Homo sapiens: one gene and its partners. The gene in region 4 interacts genetically with the main gene of each other region. Each region holds a gene or a part of one and is shown on either strand. Other genes may lie near its edges.

Region 1 (4,018 bases), on a different chromosome or scaffold from region 4:
CATTGATGTAAAGCTACTGCATGTGTCAGGTTCATGAAAGAGGGATGATCTAGGGATGACTGGAAGAAGGTGTGTACAAAGACTGCAGGGTTTCCATTCCAGCTCCAGCTTTGAAGTTTGATTCCAGAAAAACTCAAAATTTAGCGTATTTCTGGTGTGTTTCATAAAATCAGACTATCAAAGAGAAGAAACCCCAGTGGGTCATGTGGTTACCATTTCAGAGTACTCAAAGGAGATACAAGCTATAAGGAAAAAGATGCTTGTTTTCATTTTCTAAAAAAAAAAAAAAAAAAAGTGATTGAAATGAGATCTTGAAATCTGTACTCAAGTGATTTCATTAGGTGAAGCAAGAAATGAGAATTGATTTGAACTGATGTGAATTGGCTGGAAAGGGATTCTTAGATCAGCTAAGTGAACTTTCTGGTTTTCCGGATGTGGTTGGAGCAGCTTTGCCGATTACCCACTGGTTAACAGCAGAGTCACAGCTAGAATGTAGCTCTCTTGAACTTCCATGCTGTGTATCTGAAGAGGAAGGTGCTCCTTAAGGAAGCAGAGAGGCTTCTCGGGAAAGGGGAGGGGATCCTTGTTGCTCCTGAGGCTTTGACAAGCCCTTATTAATTTGCATTTTAAAGGCAGGCAAGGCCGCACACACCAGTAGTCCCAGCTACAGTGGAGGAGGCTGAGGCGGGAGGATCACTTGAGCTGAGGAGTTTGAGACTGCAGTGAGCTATGATCACACCACTGTATTCCAGCCTGAGTGACAGAGCAAGACCCCATCTTTAAAAAAAACAGTTGTGCTTTAAACTTTGCTTTGGGGGCCAAGTGTGGCTATTTTAATTCTCCGGCGTTCTCTGGAAGCTGGATCCTGTGGAGTGCTCTTTGCCTGAGTTTCCAAGTGGCTCTGTGCTCCCTTCCGCTTGCGCCCTGTAGACTGCTTCTGTGTTTCTGTGCCTTTAGTAGGTAGTGTAGACCCATACTTGGACTTCCTGGCTTCATTGCTGACTAGCAGTGTACTTGTGGACAAGCCCTTCCTTCACCTTCTCTTAGCCTTGGCCCTCTTGCCTGTCAGCTTGAGATCATGAATGATAGGCTCACTTTCTTATCCTGAGATTCAGCTATGAAAGTTCCTCGACATGTGTATAAAGCCAGACCAACGATGTGTTGTGCTCTTATCACCACACGCTCATTTCTCAGATCTTTGCCTGGGAGTCTAATTATGTCGTCCTGAGTAGGTACTCTTTCTCACGGAGTGGGGTGGGTGGAAAAGGGCTATCTAGAGATGTTGAGTCTGTCCTGGCATGGGGTCTGGAGGATGGAGGCCAAAGCGGGAGAGATGGGGTTTCAGTGTGTTGATTATCCCTAGCTGTAATGAAAGCTACTGTTTGTTGACTTTGCAAGGAGGAAAAAGGCTCCACAAAAGGCAGAAATCTATCTTCAAGGAGCACTGAAAAACTACCTGGCTGAGGGCTGGGCACTCCCCATCACACACACAAGGAAGCAGCTGGCCGAATGTCAAAAGCACCTTGGACAAATTGAAAAGTATCCTTTAATGTTTTCATGAAGCAGGAAAATTATTTTCTGTTTATACGGCAACATTGCCCACAATCAATGTTTCATTCACACCTATTATTAAGGAGAGAAAAGTCCTAACTTATACATATGTATTGTATAGAAAATGAATGAAATGTCTAGTCGATTTTTTATAATCTAATTTTGAGCCCTAGTAACTTAAAAAAAAAAAGCCCTTTGGCTTTTGAAGCCTCTGTGAAGGCCGTAGGAGACTTTGCATCCACTTCCCCCCGCACTCCTAAGTATGAGCCTCTCCACGCTCCTTACCTCTCCGCTCCAGCTACCTGCAGACCAGCAGCCTCTTAGCCAGTGACCACCACCTCACTGAAGAGGAGCGCAAGCACTTCTGCCAGGAGATACTTGACTTTGCCAGCCAGCCGTCAGACAGCCCAGGTAAGACCAGTTCTTACAACTTGACTAGGAATATTTTCAAATATTACAGAAGTAAAAAAGAATACAAGATATACCAACCACTTACAGTAAACAGTTGCTAACATTTTGCTGTGTAGCTGACATGTATCTATGTCTTTCACCTGACTTTTTTTTTTATTTTTGCTTTAAGTCAAACTCTAGACCACATTAGATCTTCTAAAAATAAGGACAGTCTCTTAACCACACCCAAAGAATTAATAAGGTTCTAATATCATCTGCTAAGTAGGCCATATTCATATTTCCCTAATTGTCTTAAAGTATTTTATAAATCATTTTTAATGGAGTCCAACAGGATATCACATATTACATGTGGTTGTTAGATCTCAGTTCTCTTTTAATGTAAAAAAAGTTCTTCCCATCTCTTTTTCTTCTTCTTCTTTTTTTTTTTTGAGACAGAGTCTCGCTCTGTTGTCCAGGCTGTAGTGCAATGGTGCCATCTCAGCTCACCACAACCTCCGTCTCCCGGGTTCAAGCAATTCTCCTGCCTCAGCCTCCCAAGTAGCTGGGGTTACGTGCGCCCGCCACCATGCCCTGCTAATTTTTTGTATTTTTAGTAGAGACAGTGTTTTGCTCTGTTGGCCAGGCTGGTCTCAGACTCCTGACCTCAGGTGATCCACCCACCTCAGCCTCCCAAAGGGCTGGGATTACAGATGTGAGCCACCGCACCCAGTCTTTTTCTTCATTTTTTAAGATGGTGCTTTTTTTTTTTTTTAAAATGTAACAGCATTATTGTGATATTCACAAACCATGTAATTCACTCATTTGAAGTTTATAATTCAATGGCTTTTAGTCTGTTTCAGGAATATGTGCAACCATTACCACAGTCAATATTATTGTTCTTTTTTTTTTTCTTTTTTTTTTTTTTTTTTTTGACTATCTTGCTCTCTTGCCTGGGCTGGAGTGCAGTGGCACGATCCCAGCTCACTGTAGCCTCAACCTTCTGGAGTCAAGAGATCCTCTTACTTTGGCTTCCTGAGTGGCAGGGACCACAGGTGTGGGCCACCACACCCAGCTATTTTTTTTCTTCTCTGTCTCCCAGGTTGGAGTGCAGTGGCATGATTGTAGCCCACTGCAACCTCTGCTTTTTGGGCTCAATTGCTCCTCCCACCTCCACCTCCTGTGTAGCTTGGACTACAGGAGCATACCACCATGCCTGGCTAATTTTTGTATTTTTAGTAGAGATGGTTTTGCCATATTGCCCAGGCTGGTCTTTAACTCCTGAGCTCAAGGAATCTACACACCTCGGTCTCCCAAAGTGCTGGAATTACAGATGTGAGCCACCATGCCTGGCCACCACAGTCAATTTTAAAACATATTTATCACCCTAAAAAGAAACCCCATACTGTAATCCCCAAAGTGCTGGGATTACAGGCGTGAGCCACCACGCTGGGCCCCAGATGCTTGTAAGTGAATACACCCCAGCAGTCAATAACCACATCAACCTGACCCTGAAACTTCTAGGAACTTCTGCCTGCCCTGGGAGGCCGGGGCAGGCAGATCACTTGAGGTCAGGAGTTTGAGACCAGCCTGGGCAACATGGCGAAACCCTGTCTCTACAAAAAATTAGCCAGGTGTGGTGGCGGGCACCTGTAGTCCCAGCTACCCAGGAGGCTGAGGTAGGAGGATCGCTTGAGCCCAGGAGAACTGGGCTGTAGTGAGCCAAGATGGTGCCACTATACTATAGCCTGGGCGACAGAGCGAGACCCTGTCTCAAAGAAAGGGGGACAACAAAAGATCCATGTGGGTGGGTTTCTCGGGAGCATCATGACGTTAGTCTGTGGAGTCTTTAACGCGCCCAAGCTGACTGTTGGTAGAGCCGTGACCACATCTGCTGCTGCTTTGTATTTGAGACTATTTGAGTTGTGATGTTCCTGCCAACGTTCCTTGGTATCTCTATACGAATAAAATATTCCACAATCGTTTACTGTTTCTCATGATCTATGGCATCAGTCTTGGCAAGTCCTTTCGTTGATGAATATTTAATAAATACTTAACTGGTCACTTCTGCAGCCTTGTG
Region 2 (4,018 bases), on a different chromosome or scaffold from region 4:
TAAGCCTGGGTAGGATTTTTCAAACTGTGTCATGACTCAATGAATTGTAAAAATCACTCAGTAGGAAATAATCAGAATTTTTTTTTAAAAAAAGAAACAATAGGCCGGGTGCGGTGGCTCACACCTGTAATTACGGCACTTTGGGAGGCAAGGCGGGTGGATCACCTCAGGTTAGGAGTTCAAGACCAGCCTGGCCAACATGGTGAAACCCCGTCTCTACAAAAATACAAAAATTAGCTGGGTATGATGGTGGGTGCCTGTAATCCCAGCTACTCAGGAGACTGAGGCGGGAGAATTGCTTGAACCTGGGAGGCGGAGGTTGCAGTGAGCAGAGATCGCGCCACTGCACTCCAGCCTGGGCGACAGAGTGAGACTCCATCTTGGGAAGGGAAAAAAAAAAGAAACAATATAAAATATCAGAGTCTATCACCTATATACATAAGTTCCATCTACTGTTTCATGGAACTTACGTATAAAGGTATAATTTACGAATATTTTGTTATATGTGTAGGTGTATACACAATTTATTTACTAGGTCATGATGTAAAATACATTTCTTACTATAGGTCAAATCAAAAAACTCAAAAGCCATAGTACTTGACGATATACTTAGTGCAAAGTTTTAAAAATACCTCAGTTTTCCAGGCATTACATCATATTGTTGTCTTAGTTCACTCCCTCTGAATCCCACTTAAGTTGCTTAGGTTACTTAAGTATCTTTCTTTTAATTTATGGCCCCTTTTTGTTTAGGGTTTGCATTACAACCCTTACACTATTAAAAAACTTTCATTTTTTAAATCTCTGCTTCCTATTTCTTATATAACCAATTTATTAATAAAATGCCATAGTAAGAAAAATTTGTGTCATCTGTTGCTCTGACTAGGTCACTGCCCTTCACTGGCTCCCTACTGCTTAATGCGTCTAATTCAAAAATTGCTTATTCCCTGTTTTGATGTCTATCCACAGTTCAATTCATCTAAAAATAATCATCTCATTTATTTCTCTCTGTTCTTTCTTGTTCGTTATACTCCTGATTTTAAAGGTCACCCACCTACGATCATCAGAAACATCTCGTTTACATACTATGCTTTGTTTATTTCTTCTCACATTTGAACTATCAGCTCCTAGTGGTCGGTGACCAAATTTAAGCCACCAGTAAGCTGTCACTCATCATGTTTCAGCCACAAGGAAAAAATTGGTAAAATAAAAGGATAAAAATTCTCTTTATTTTCCAAGTATTCTCCTCTTATTATTTCATACCTTGAATGACAGAATAACTATTTCCATCATAGAAAGACTAAAACTTCCCTCCAATAGCTTTATAACCTTAAAAAGGTTTAGTGAGATGATTTAAATGTGGAAAAGAATACCCAAGAAAGGCCTTCAGAGAATATGATAATAGTTTCTTCTCTACACAAAGAAGTAAACAATGTTTAGCTTTTTATAATGTAAATATCACTTAGGTAATATTTTCTCTTAATAGCAAATCTCAATTTCTATTAAAACAACACTCTAAAATCTATACAGTATAACGATGTTTTACATTATAGCTTTTTTGAGGTGTAACAGACATAAAAGAAGTTGTACTTAAATGCAAAATTTGTTGAGTTTTAAGATATGTAAGCCCGTGAAGCCATCAGTCTCCCAAAAGTTTCCTCATACTCCATTGTAATCCATCCCTTCTTGCCCCTGCACCCTAGGCAGCTGATGATCTGCTTTCTGCCACTACAGATTAGTACACATTTACTAGGATTTTTATATAAATGTAATCACATGGTATTTTTGGTCTGAGTTTTTTCACTCTGTAATTATTTTGAGAATCATCCATTTTGCTGCATGTATCAATAGTTCATTCCTCTTTATAGCTGAGTTGTAGTCTGTTGTAATGCTGTATCACTATTTTTCGATTCATCTGTTAATTGATATTTGGGTTGTTTCCAGTTTGGGGCTATTAGAAATAAAGCTGGTATGAATATTTGTACATAATTCTGTGGACACATGAAGACATATTTATGTTGGGTAAACATCTGGGAGTAAAGTGGCTAGGAAATATAGATGTGTGCTTTATTTCTTTTTTTTGAGACAGGGTCTTGCTCTGTGGCCTAGGCTGGAATACAGTGGCATGATCATGGCTCACTGCAGCCTTGACCTCTCAGGCTTAAGTGATCCTACCACCTCAGCCTCTGGAGTAGCTGGGACTACAAGTATGTACCACCATGTTCAGCTACTTTTTTAAAAAATTTCTTATTTTTGTATAGAAGAAGTCTCCCTACATTGCCCAGGCTGGTCTCAAACTCCTAGGCTGAAGCAATCCTCCCGCCTCGGCCTTTTAATTTCTAAAGAAACTACCAAATTGTTTTCCAAAGTGATTGTATCATTTTACGTTCCCATCAGTAGTATATCTTCTGTAGTAATTGCTGGTTCAAATCTTTAGATCATTTTTAAAAAGTGGATGTCTTCTTATTAATGAATTATAAGCATTCTTCATATATTCTAGATATAAATCCTTTGTCAGATACATTTTTCACAAATATTTTCTGCTAGTCTGTAGCTTGTCTTTTCATTTTTGTAACCGTTTTTCTTCAAATTTATTTATTTAAATTGATAGGTAAAATTGCATATATTTATCATGTACAACATATTGTTTTAAAGTATATATACACTGTGGAATGGTTAATCTAGCTAATTTGCATTATCTCACAGTTATCGTTTTTTGTGGTGAGAACACTTAACATCCACTCTTTCAGCATTTTTCCAGAATGCACTATATCATCATTAACCATGTCACGATGTTGTATAATAGTGTAACCGTCTTTTGAAGAACAAAAGTTTTAAATTCAGTTAAAGAACAATTTATTGATTTTTTTTCTGAACTATAAGTTCATGCTTTTCTCTGTCCCATTTAAGAAATGTTTGCCAAAACAGGGTCACTACAATTTGTTTTCTTTTAGAAATTTTAAGTAGTTTTAGCTCTCACACTTAGGTCTATGATCCACTTCCAGTTAATTTTTGTAAATGGTATAATGTAACAGTTGAGGTTCATATTTTTACATATGACTATTAACTGTTTCAGCACCATTTGATGAAAAAGATTACCCCTTCTTCAACTAAATTAGCATCTCTGTCAAAAAATTAATATATCATATATATATGAATCTACTTCTGGAACTTCTTATTCGGCTCTACTGATCTATGTCTGCTTATGCCAAACAATAGTAAATTGACTATAGTATAATAAATCTTAAAATTTGTAGAATAGTAAATTCTCTCCAATATTGTGCCTCTTTGTCAAAGTTGATTTGGCTATTCCGTGGCCTTTGCACATAAACTTTAAAGTCAGCTTGTCAATATCTACCCTCCCAAAAAAGTCTGCCAATGTTTGATAGTTTGATTAGGGTTACAATAAATCTTTTTTTTTTTTTTTTTTTCTTGGAGACAGAGTCTTGCTCTTTTGCCCAGGCTGGAGTGCAGGTGGCACAATCATAGCTCACTGCAACCTTGAGCTCCTGGATTCAAGTGATCCTCTCACCTCTGCTTCCTGAGTAAGTAGAGCTAAAGGCGTGTGCCAGCATGCCTAGCTAGTTTTTTTTAATTATTATTTTATTTTTTGTAGAGATAGGGTCTTGCTACATTCTCAGGCTGGTCTTGAACTCCTTGCCTCATGTGATGCTCCTGCCTTGGCCTCCCAAAGTGCTGGGATTACAGATGTGAGCCATTGTACCTGGCCTTCAATGAATTTTTAGATAAATTTGAGAAGACATCTTATATTTAGTTTTACAATCCATGAACATGGTTATATCTCTTCATTTATTTAGTCTGTTTACAATATTCTCTCTCTTTTTTTTATCTATAGTGATGTCAACCTTTCTTTCCTGATATTGCTAATGTTTGTCTTTTTCCTGATCAGTATCTATTTTATTTTATCTTCTGAAGAATTAGCTTTTGGTTTCATTGGTTTTCTCTCTCTCTTTTTTTTTTAACGGGCAGGAGGCTTTCCTTAACTTTGATTTGCTCTTAT
Region 3 (4,018 bases), on a different chromosome or scaffold from region 4:
TTTTCTTTTCCATCCCTAATTCTTACTCCCTTTCTTTCCCCACTTCTATTTCCCTAGCCTCTTTAAAAAACTAAATTTAAGTCCATTTTAAGTTTTATTTTGGTTTTTTCTTAAGAGACAAAGTCTCACTCTTGCTCAGGATGGAGTGCAGTGGTGCGATCGTGGCTCACTGCAGCCTTGACCTCCTGAGCCCAAGCGATCCTCCTGCCTCACCCTCACAAGTAGCTGGGACTACAGGCACAGACCACCAAGCCCAGCTAATGTCTTTTTATTTTATTTTATTTTATTTTATTTTGGTAGAAGTGAGGTCTCCCTATGTTGCTCAGGCTGGTCTCCACCCAGTTAATGTTTTTTAATTTTGTTTTGTAGAAGTGAGGTGAAGTAAGATTTTTTTATTTTTTATTTTTTGTAGAAGTGTTGGGATTACAGGCATGAGCCACCATGCCTGGCCGTTTGAAGTATTTCTTATATTTGGCTGGGCACAGTGGCTTATGCCTGTAATCCCAGCACTCTGGGAGGCCAAGGCAGGCATATCAGCTGAGGTCGAGTTCAAGAGCAGCTCGGCCAACATCGCAAAACCCCGTCTCTACTAAAAATAGAAAATTTAGCCGGGTGTGGTAGTGCATGCCTGTAAGTCCCAGCTACTCGGAAGGCTGAGGCAGGAGAATCGCTTGAACCCAGGAGGCGGAGATTGCAGTGAGCCAAGATCATGCCACTGCACTCCAGCCTGGGCAACAGAGCGAGACTCCGTCCCCAAGAACGAAAGAATTTGTTATATTTAATATGTTCTACGGCACCTCGTTAAACTTCTGTTACAGAACTCACCTCATTACTTCATTCCGACTTGTATTATCATAAGTGGCTGACAGGTGTCCTTGCTAAACTGTCAACCTCAACGAAAGAACCCTGTTTTAGTCCTTACCCACACAATGGACTCAGCCAGTCCATCCTCCCAGGACCACCTCCAGGAGGCGCAGTCCCCAAAGGGAAGACCACACACAGACATCCGATTCCACCACGAAGTGTCAGCAACATCTCAGGCAGGGCACCCGCTCTGCCGACTGCTGCGGGGGATCAGAGATGGCTGTGCTTTGAAGTAGGATTTCTTCTTCCCTTTCTTTTAATTTTTAAGATTGACATAGAGTTCACATACCATATAATTCACCCACTTAAAGTGTGCAAGTCAGCAGTTTTTAGTATATTCACAACTGTGCAACCATCACCACTAACTGACTCTGGAACATTTTCATCACCCCAGAAAGAAACCTTATGCCCGTTAACTGTCACTTCCCATTCCCCCTCCTCCCAGCCCCTAGAACCAGTTGTCTACTTTCTGCTTCTATAGATTTGCCTATTCTAGCCACTTCATATATATAGAATCATACAATCTGCGGCCTTTTTCATGCCTGCCTTCTCTCACTTAGCACAAAGTTGTCAAGGTTCATCCGTGCTGCAGTGGTATCACAATTTCACTCCTTTTCATGGCTGAATAATATTCCGCTGTATGCCCATACCACATTTCGTTTATCCATTCATCATGTGACACATGGAGGAGGTTTTGAGGGAGGAGTCTAAGAGGTGAAGATCATGGGGAACGGCATCCAAAGCAGAGGGCAAGGTATACTAAGAACAGAGGAAAAGGGAAAGTGTGGGCAGGGCCTCCTTCAGAGGACGCATGGCAGGGTGGGAGGAGGGCAGCAGATACAGCAGGGAAGCATCCCAGGCCACTGCTCGTGGCAACCAGCACAGGCTGGCTGCTTTTCCTCCCTCATCCCTTCTTTTTGGGGAATTTCTTCTGCCGTTTCCTCTCATTTCTTTTTTTATTTTATTTTATTTTTTTTTGAGATGGAGTCTCGCTCTGTTGCCAGGCTGGAGTGCAGTTGTGCAACCTCTGCTCACTGCAACTTCTGCCTCCTGGTTCAAGAAATTCTGCTGCCTCCGCCTCCCGAGTAGCTGGGACTATAGGCGCGTGCCACCACGCCCAGCTAATTTTTGTATTTTTAGTAGAGACGTGGTTTCACCATGTTGGCCAGGATGGTCTCAATCTCTTGACCTCATATTTGGCCTGCCGTAGCCTCCCAAAGTGCTGGGATTACAGGCGTGAGCCACCGCACCCAGCCTCTCATTTTAATTAACAGTTGAAACAATTACATATCAGATCATCTTCATCAGCTCATCTTACCTCCAAGCCACAGAAAGTCATTCACAGAACGCAGCAGCTCCACCGACATGTGGTAATGCACCAGGGAGTCCTGCAGCATCCCTGCCTGCAGGCACAGGTCCCCCACGTGCTTCCGCATGCGGCCTTGGCACCGCTTCTTGTAATGTCTAGAAAATACATGAAAATGTATCTTTATTACTATACAACTCCCACCCAGAAAGCACTCTGACTAAGCACTATTCAATTCTCTCACTACTAAAAATGCTAAGAAGGCAACTGTAGGCTCTATAATTTTAAGTCAGCAATAATCATTGCCAGTTATGTGAGCTGGAGTGGTCTTAATTTCAAAAATGTACTGCCAAGCAATTTGTTTAAAGGTGATCGGTACGTAAGGACTTCTACCATGTCTTTCACGTAGGCAATGTTACAGTTGGATTTTTCTTTTTAGATTTTCCAGTTGTAACATTAGCATAAGGAAGTTTATGTTTCAGCTTTTTAAAAAAATCAATTATCTTCCACTTCTTAACATCAAACCTCTTATTATTTTATAAAGACAGCTATGCTGAGTCTTATTAGCCAACCATTTGGCTTTAGCAAACAAGACGTTCATCCTCGCTATTTCAGGGCAAGCTTTAGGAAAGCTTCCAGAGAGCAGGGCCTGGGGTGCTCACTAACAGCTCTTTAAATATTGGCAAGGATATACCACTAAATAATGCAAAGGCTTCTGAGTCCCTAATCAACTCAGAAACCAAAGAAACTGTACCAAAGTATTCCTTTTATCATTTTTAAATACATCTAACCTTTAAATGTTATATTTCTTAAGATAGATGATTTTTTTTTTAAAGAAAAACTGCAGCTGGATTAAACTTTCCCTCATCAAGAAAGCAAACTTATCAAGAATAAAACTCCTCTGGAAATCCAGAAGATGTGACGTTTCTAAGTAAATGAATGTTATTGACACATCTCAATACAATGTTAAATCCTATCATGTGTAACTCTAACGAGTTCAACAAACTCTTTGTTACTCTGGAATTTAGCATTTCCATTCTGAATAAGTTTTAAACAAAGATCACAACGTAAGGCAGACGCAGAAAGAAAAAGAAACGCCAGCCTTCGTTTGTCTCCTTCCTGGCCACAAGGCAGTGTCAGGATGGCCCCTGCTAACAGACCCTCCCCATAAGAAAATACAGCATCTAGCAGGGTGCAGTGGCTCACGCCTGTAATCCCAGCACTTTGGGAGACCGAGGCGGGCGGATCACAAGGTCAGGAGATCGAGACCATCCTGGCTAACACGGTGAAACCCCATCTCTACTAAAAATACAAAAAATTAGCCGGGCGTGGTGGCACGCGCCTGTAGTCCCAGCTACTCAGGAGGCTGAGGCAGGAGAATCACTTGAACCCGGGAGGCGGAGGTTGCAGTGAGCCGAGATCATGCCACTGCACTCCAGCCTGGGGGACAGGGTGAGACTCCCAAAAAAAAAAGAAAAGAAAAGAAAGGCATCTGAGCTGCTCTTCCCATCCCAACAGCAGTCACCTCAGCAGCCTCCGCCTAGTCTCTGACTCCTCACCCTGCACCCCCTTCCCCTTCATTGCTTCTATACACACACAGCCAGAGTGTCCTTCCCAAAGCACAAATCAGTCTGTGTCCCTCCCCCACTGCAAACCTTTCACAGGATGCTCAATTCAGTCGTAGGGAGAGGCATGCAGTCCATAGCTAGCCCCTCCCACGGCTCTGGCTTCCCCTCCTACCACTGTGGCTTTGCACTCCACAGGCAACCTTGCTGCAACGCTGAAGTCCCCCAACCTCAGGCTCTATCCGCCTCACAACTTCCACTCTCTTTTAGGCTCATCTCAATG
Region 4 (4,018 bases):
CAACAATTCTCCAGCCACAGCCTCCCAAATAGCTGGGATTACATGCACTCGCCACTACACCCAGCTAGTTTTGTATTTTTAGTAGAGATGGGTTTTTACCACGTTGGCCAGGCTGGTCTCGAACTCCTGACCTCAGGTGATCCACCCACCTCAGCCTCCCAAAGTGCTGGGATTACAGGCATGAGCCACCACACCGGGCCCAAACCATTCTTTCATTACTCTCTCTCCCTTGTACCCCTGCACTGCTCAGAGTACGTTTTTTAAATTCCTTACCTTTGATTCATGCATTTTTACCTGACAATTCAAAATGTGTCCATCATTTTAGATATAGCTGAAGTTCTAACTTCCTCCCTTAAGATTCCCTATTACTTTAACCAAAAAGAATTGTTTCCTCTTCAAAACTCTGGGCACCCTTCTCACAGGCCTTATGAAGGAAACACATGTTCAGTGCTGACAGTCCTCTCCTCTTTTACTGAGGGGTACAGAACTCCTGGAGTGCAGAGAACATTCACATTTGTATGCCCAGAGTATCTAGCACAAAATGTTATGTAAAGAGGAGCTACATAAATATTTGCTAGGAATTGTAAATTAAATTTATAGGCCAGGCATGGTGGTTCATGCCTGTAATCCCAGCACTCTGGGAGGCAGAGGTTGGAGGGTCACTTGAGCCTAGGAGTTTGAGACCATCCCAGGCAACACAGTGAGATCTCGTCTCTAAAATAAAAGTTATATATAACTGTTAGGATTACATATGCATTGCATAAAATAAGGTTCAGGTGTTTAAGATCAAAATTGATGGTAAATGAGATAATCGGAGGGACAAAGTTCTTAAAAGAGAGGGAACAGAATTCTGTACCCAAATAATCTGAATTTGTCTCAGATAACACAAGAATAATATGCAGGAAGACTGACAGATTTGGTGGCAGAAGATTAATACTTTATCTTCAGATTGTCAGATTGCTTTCAATTTCTTAGTAAAATAAGTAAGGTCACCATTGGAAAGGGAGGCAGAGAGACAGGATACTGAGAATTTGAGGGAAAAGGGGAGCATGTGACACTGGGAATGGAGCAGGGAAATACCACAGGACTAACTGGTACTGAGAGCTCACTTAAGAGATATTACCATAAATATAAAGTTGGAGAAACTTCAAGGAAAATAAAGCATCAACATTGGATTATTCTAATATTACAATACAGCCATTTTATAGGGAAAAAAACATTTGACATAAAAAGGTTACCAAACCTAGTAAAAATGTGCAAAATTGATAAATGAGTAATATAAACATACAGGAAAACACAAAAATAAAGCAAGTTACCTGAATAAGATTGTAACAGTCATGATTTCCACCATACTACAATTATTGTTTAAAAAGAAAAAAATGAAGAGAGAAAACAAAAACCACATCTCTAATTTGACTACTCCTGAGATTTCCATAATAGCATGATCATTCCCCCTCCCTGAGACACATTTTAATATTAAAAATAGTTGTTTCATTAATATTTTCCTGAATTGAATTCCAACTTTTTTTTTCAGTCAGATCAAAGTCAGATTTCAGTTTCCATTATCTGAACACAAACATCAAGGTCAGCAAAGTACAAGTTCCTTTATCCTACTAAGATAAATTCATACTAACTTTGAGGTAGAATCAGATCGAAGAATGTAATCACTGAATTCATTCATCACTCAATTACAAAGAAATAGGCCAATATTCAGTCAGTATGCACCCAGGTATTCATTTTAACAATTATCTTTGTTAAAATGTTAAAATAGCTCTGAATCAGTTGGTAATGAGTCATAGCCATGGTCCTATTCCCCTGCTTTACCCCACCATGCTAGCCCAAACCTTCTCATAATCCGCAGCTGAAGGAGTAATGCCTGGCACAGCTGAAAGCTTATAGGATCCTGCTCTGGTATGAAGGATGGTATCCATTTAGTGGTCAGTATACACAGTACTGATTACTGAATATTTTAATATACTCTCCCTGCCAATAAGGTATCACTAACAATGCCAAAATACAGATTTTTAATGGGCATAAAAAATGTGCATGCTTGCACACCCACACACCCCTAAGGCAATAGGCAATTACAAACCTTGGTGATTTCAAAAATGAGGAGTCTCAGATTACATCTGGATATCCTAGGTTATCATAATGCAAGGATAACAGTTATAGAGCTTCTTCCCAAGCTCTGAGAGAAATGTTTTCTTGTATTCTTTCTCTCCTACATTCCATAAACTGCAAATATACCTGAGGATGAAGGTAACTGTTCCAGTCACCGCTGGCGGACAGAGCCTACAGACACAGGCTATGTAAACAACTGGATTAAATCTCACTGCATTAAGTATAGATTATTCCTGCTACAACATCAATTATCCTTCTTGGATACCACGACAATGAGTGCTATGAGTGAGGGGCCAAAAGACAACCAAGGCCACACATGGTGGCTCACGCTGTAATCCCAGCACTCTGGGAGGCCAAGGTAGGAGAATCACTTGAGCCTGGGCAACATGGTGAAACCCCATCTCTACAAAAAATACAAAAATTAGCTGGGCATAGTGGCATGCCCCTGTAGTCCTAGCTACTCAGGAGGCTGAAGTGGGAGAATCACCTTAACCCGGGGAGGTCAAGACTGCAGTGAGCTGTGATCATATCACTGCACTCCAGCCTGGGTGACAAAGTGAGGCCCTGTCTCAAAATACAGAAAGAAAAGAAAATCAATATTGGTTCAGAATCTACTACATGCCAGATACCTTGCTTTTCTACATATAATCTGATATGCTTCTCAAACAATTCTGTGAAGTATCACTATCATCTTTTATATACAAATAAACAGGGCCATGAAAGCCCACTAATTCATACGAATTCAAATCGTTGGTAAGGAGCAAAGAAGCCAGGCATTGCTGGTTCCAAAGCCAGGCTTATACCTCATTTCACAATATCCATTAATCAGAAATCCTAAGGAAAACAAGTTAAGACTTGGCCACTGGCTAGGCAAGACATGATTTTACCACTCCCTCTCGCTACTTCATCCTGCTTTTCCTCAGTTCCTGTTACAAATGACTTCTGGCACACAATTTTAGAAAACTTAAAACCCATTAAACTTACCTTTCCATAAGCAAACTAGCTAAAATAGATGGCCTATTACCAGAAACCTTCCAAGAATGCATTTGCGGACATAAGGGATGGAGGACTGGAAAGCAGAAGAAAATAAAGAGAAGACTAAAATAGTGATTGAGCCTTAAATACAAAAAAGGGGAGAGGGAGCTGGCACACAGACTCCTGTCAGTGGCCAGTCTTCAAAAGCAATAACGAATAGGAAACCAAGTTCACTTAACTGAGTGCCTATTACAAGCTGCTACTACTGGGCATATGATGAAGAAAACTCATATGGTTTCTGCCACCTGAAGAATTTATAAAACGGTGTTCTGAAGAAAATGGAAGGGAGGGACTCTAATTGCTAAGCTCCTTCTAGGGCTAAGTACTTTAAAAATAGTACCTTATTAAATGTAGTTCTATAAACAACTCTGTAAGAAAGGTATTATTATACTCTGAAGCATGTTAAGTAAGTTTCTCCACAAAAATTTGGGCTATATCAAAGCCTACAACCTTTTCACTAGTCCACTCCTTCTGGACAATTCTGAGTATGCTCAGCCTATTGAAAATAGTAGCTTCTCCAGGGCTGAATATATATAACATGATCTTTTCTAACAATGCTGACAATGAAGATGCCTCATTTCTAGGAAAGAAAATTATTCTAATACCTTTAGCATAAAATACTTCAGGAATTACAGATGAATTGGAAAGATAAAGTAACATGAAATACTAGTGGTGGCAATGAATATGGTTTACAAAATTAATTACTGCTACAATCCCAGAAACTTGGGGGGAGAGGAAGGGAGTGAAAAGACACTGCAAACAACTAAAGCAATATATATAGCAATAAAAAATAAAAATTAAACCCAGATATAAGACCCTTGTTTACATATGGAGTGAATACTTTAAGATCTTTTTTTTTTTT

Evidence for each region. Genes that interact genetically often act in the same process or in processes that back each other up.
Region 1: changes in SEC24B (region 4) and TRAPPC10 together harm fitness less than expected from each alone (positive genetic interaction), as found in Homo sapiens cells (one large-scale study listed by BioGRID).
Region 2: changes in SEC24B (region 4) and RAB2A together harm fitness more than expected from each alone (negative genetic interaction), as found in Homo sapiens cells (one large-scale study listed by BioGRID).
Region 3: changes in SEC24B (region 4) and TRAPPC9 together harm fitness less than expected from each alone (positive genetic interaction), as found in Homo sapiens cells (one large-scale study listed by BioGRID).

What each region holds. Positions count from the first base shown.
Region 1 is NC_000021.9:44,078,166-44,082,183, forward strand, and holds part of TRAPPC10 (trafficking protein particle complex subunit 10), read left to right. Parts: intron 1-1,398; coding exon 1,399-1,539; intron 1,540-1,849; coding exon 1,850-1,962; intron 1,963-4,018. UniProt on the Homo sapiens protein: Specific subunit of the TRAPP (transport protein particle) II complex, a highly conserved vesicle tethering complex that functions in late Golgi trafficking as a membrane tether.
Region 2 is NC_000008.11:60,586,344-60,590,361, reverse strand, and holds part of RAB2A (ras-related protein Rab-2A), read right to left. Parts: intron 1-4,018.
Region 3 is NC_000008.11:140,436,870-140,440,887, forward strand, and holds part of TRAPPC9 (trafficking protein particle complex subunit 9), read right to left. Parts: intron 2,329-4,018; coding exon 2,183-2,328; intron 1-2,182. UniProt on the Homo sapiens protein: Functions as an activator of NF-kappa-B through increased phosphorylation of the IKK complex. May function in neuronal cells differentiation. May play a role in vesicular transport from endoplasmic reticulum to Golgi.
Region 4 is NC_000004.12:109,440,123-109,444,140, reverse strand, and holds part of SEC24B (protein transport protein Sec24B), read right to left. Parts: intron 1-4,018. UniProt on the Homo sapiens protein: Component of the coat protein complex II (COPII) which promotes the formation of transport vesicles from the endoplasmic reticulum (ER).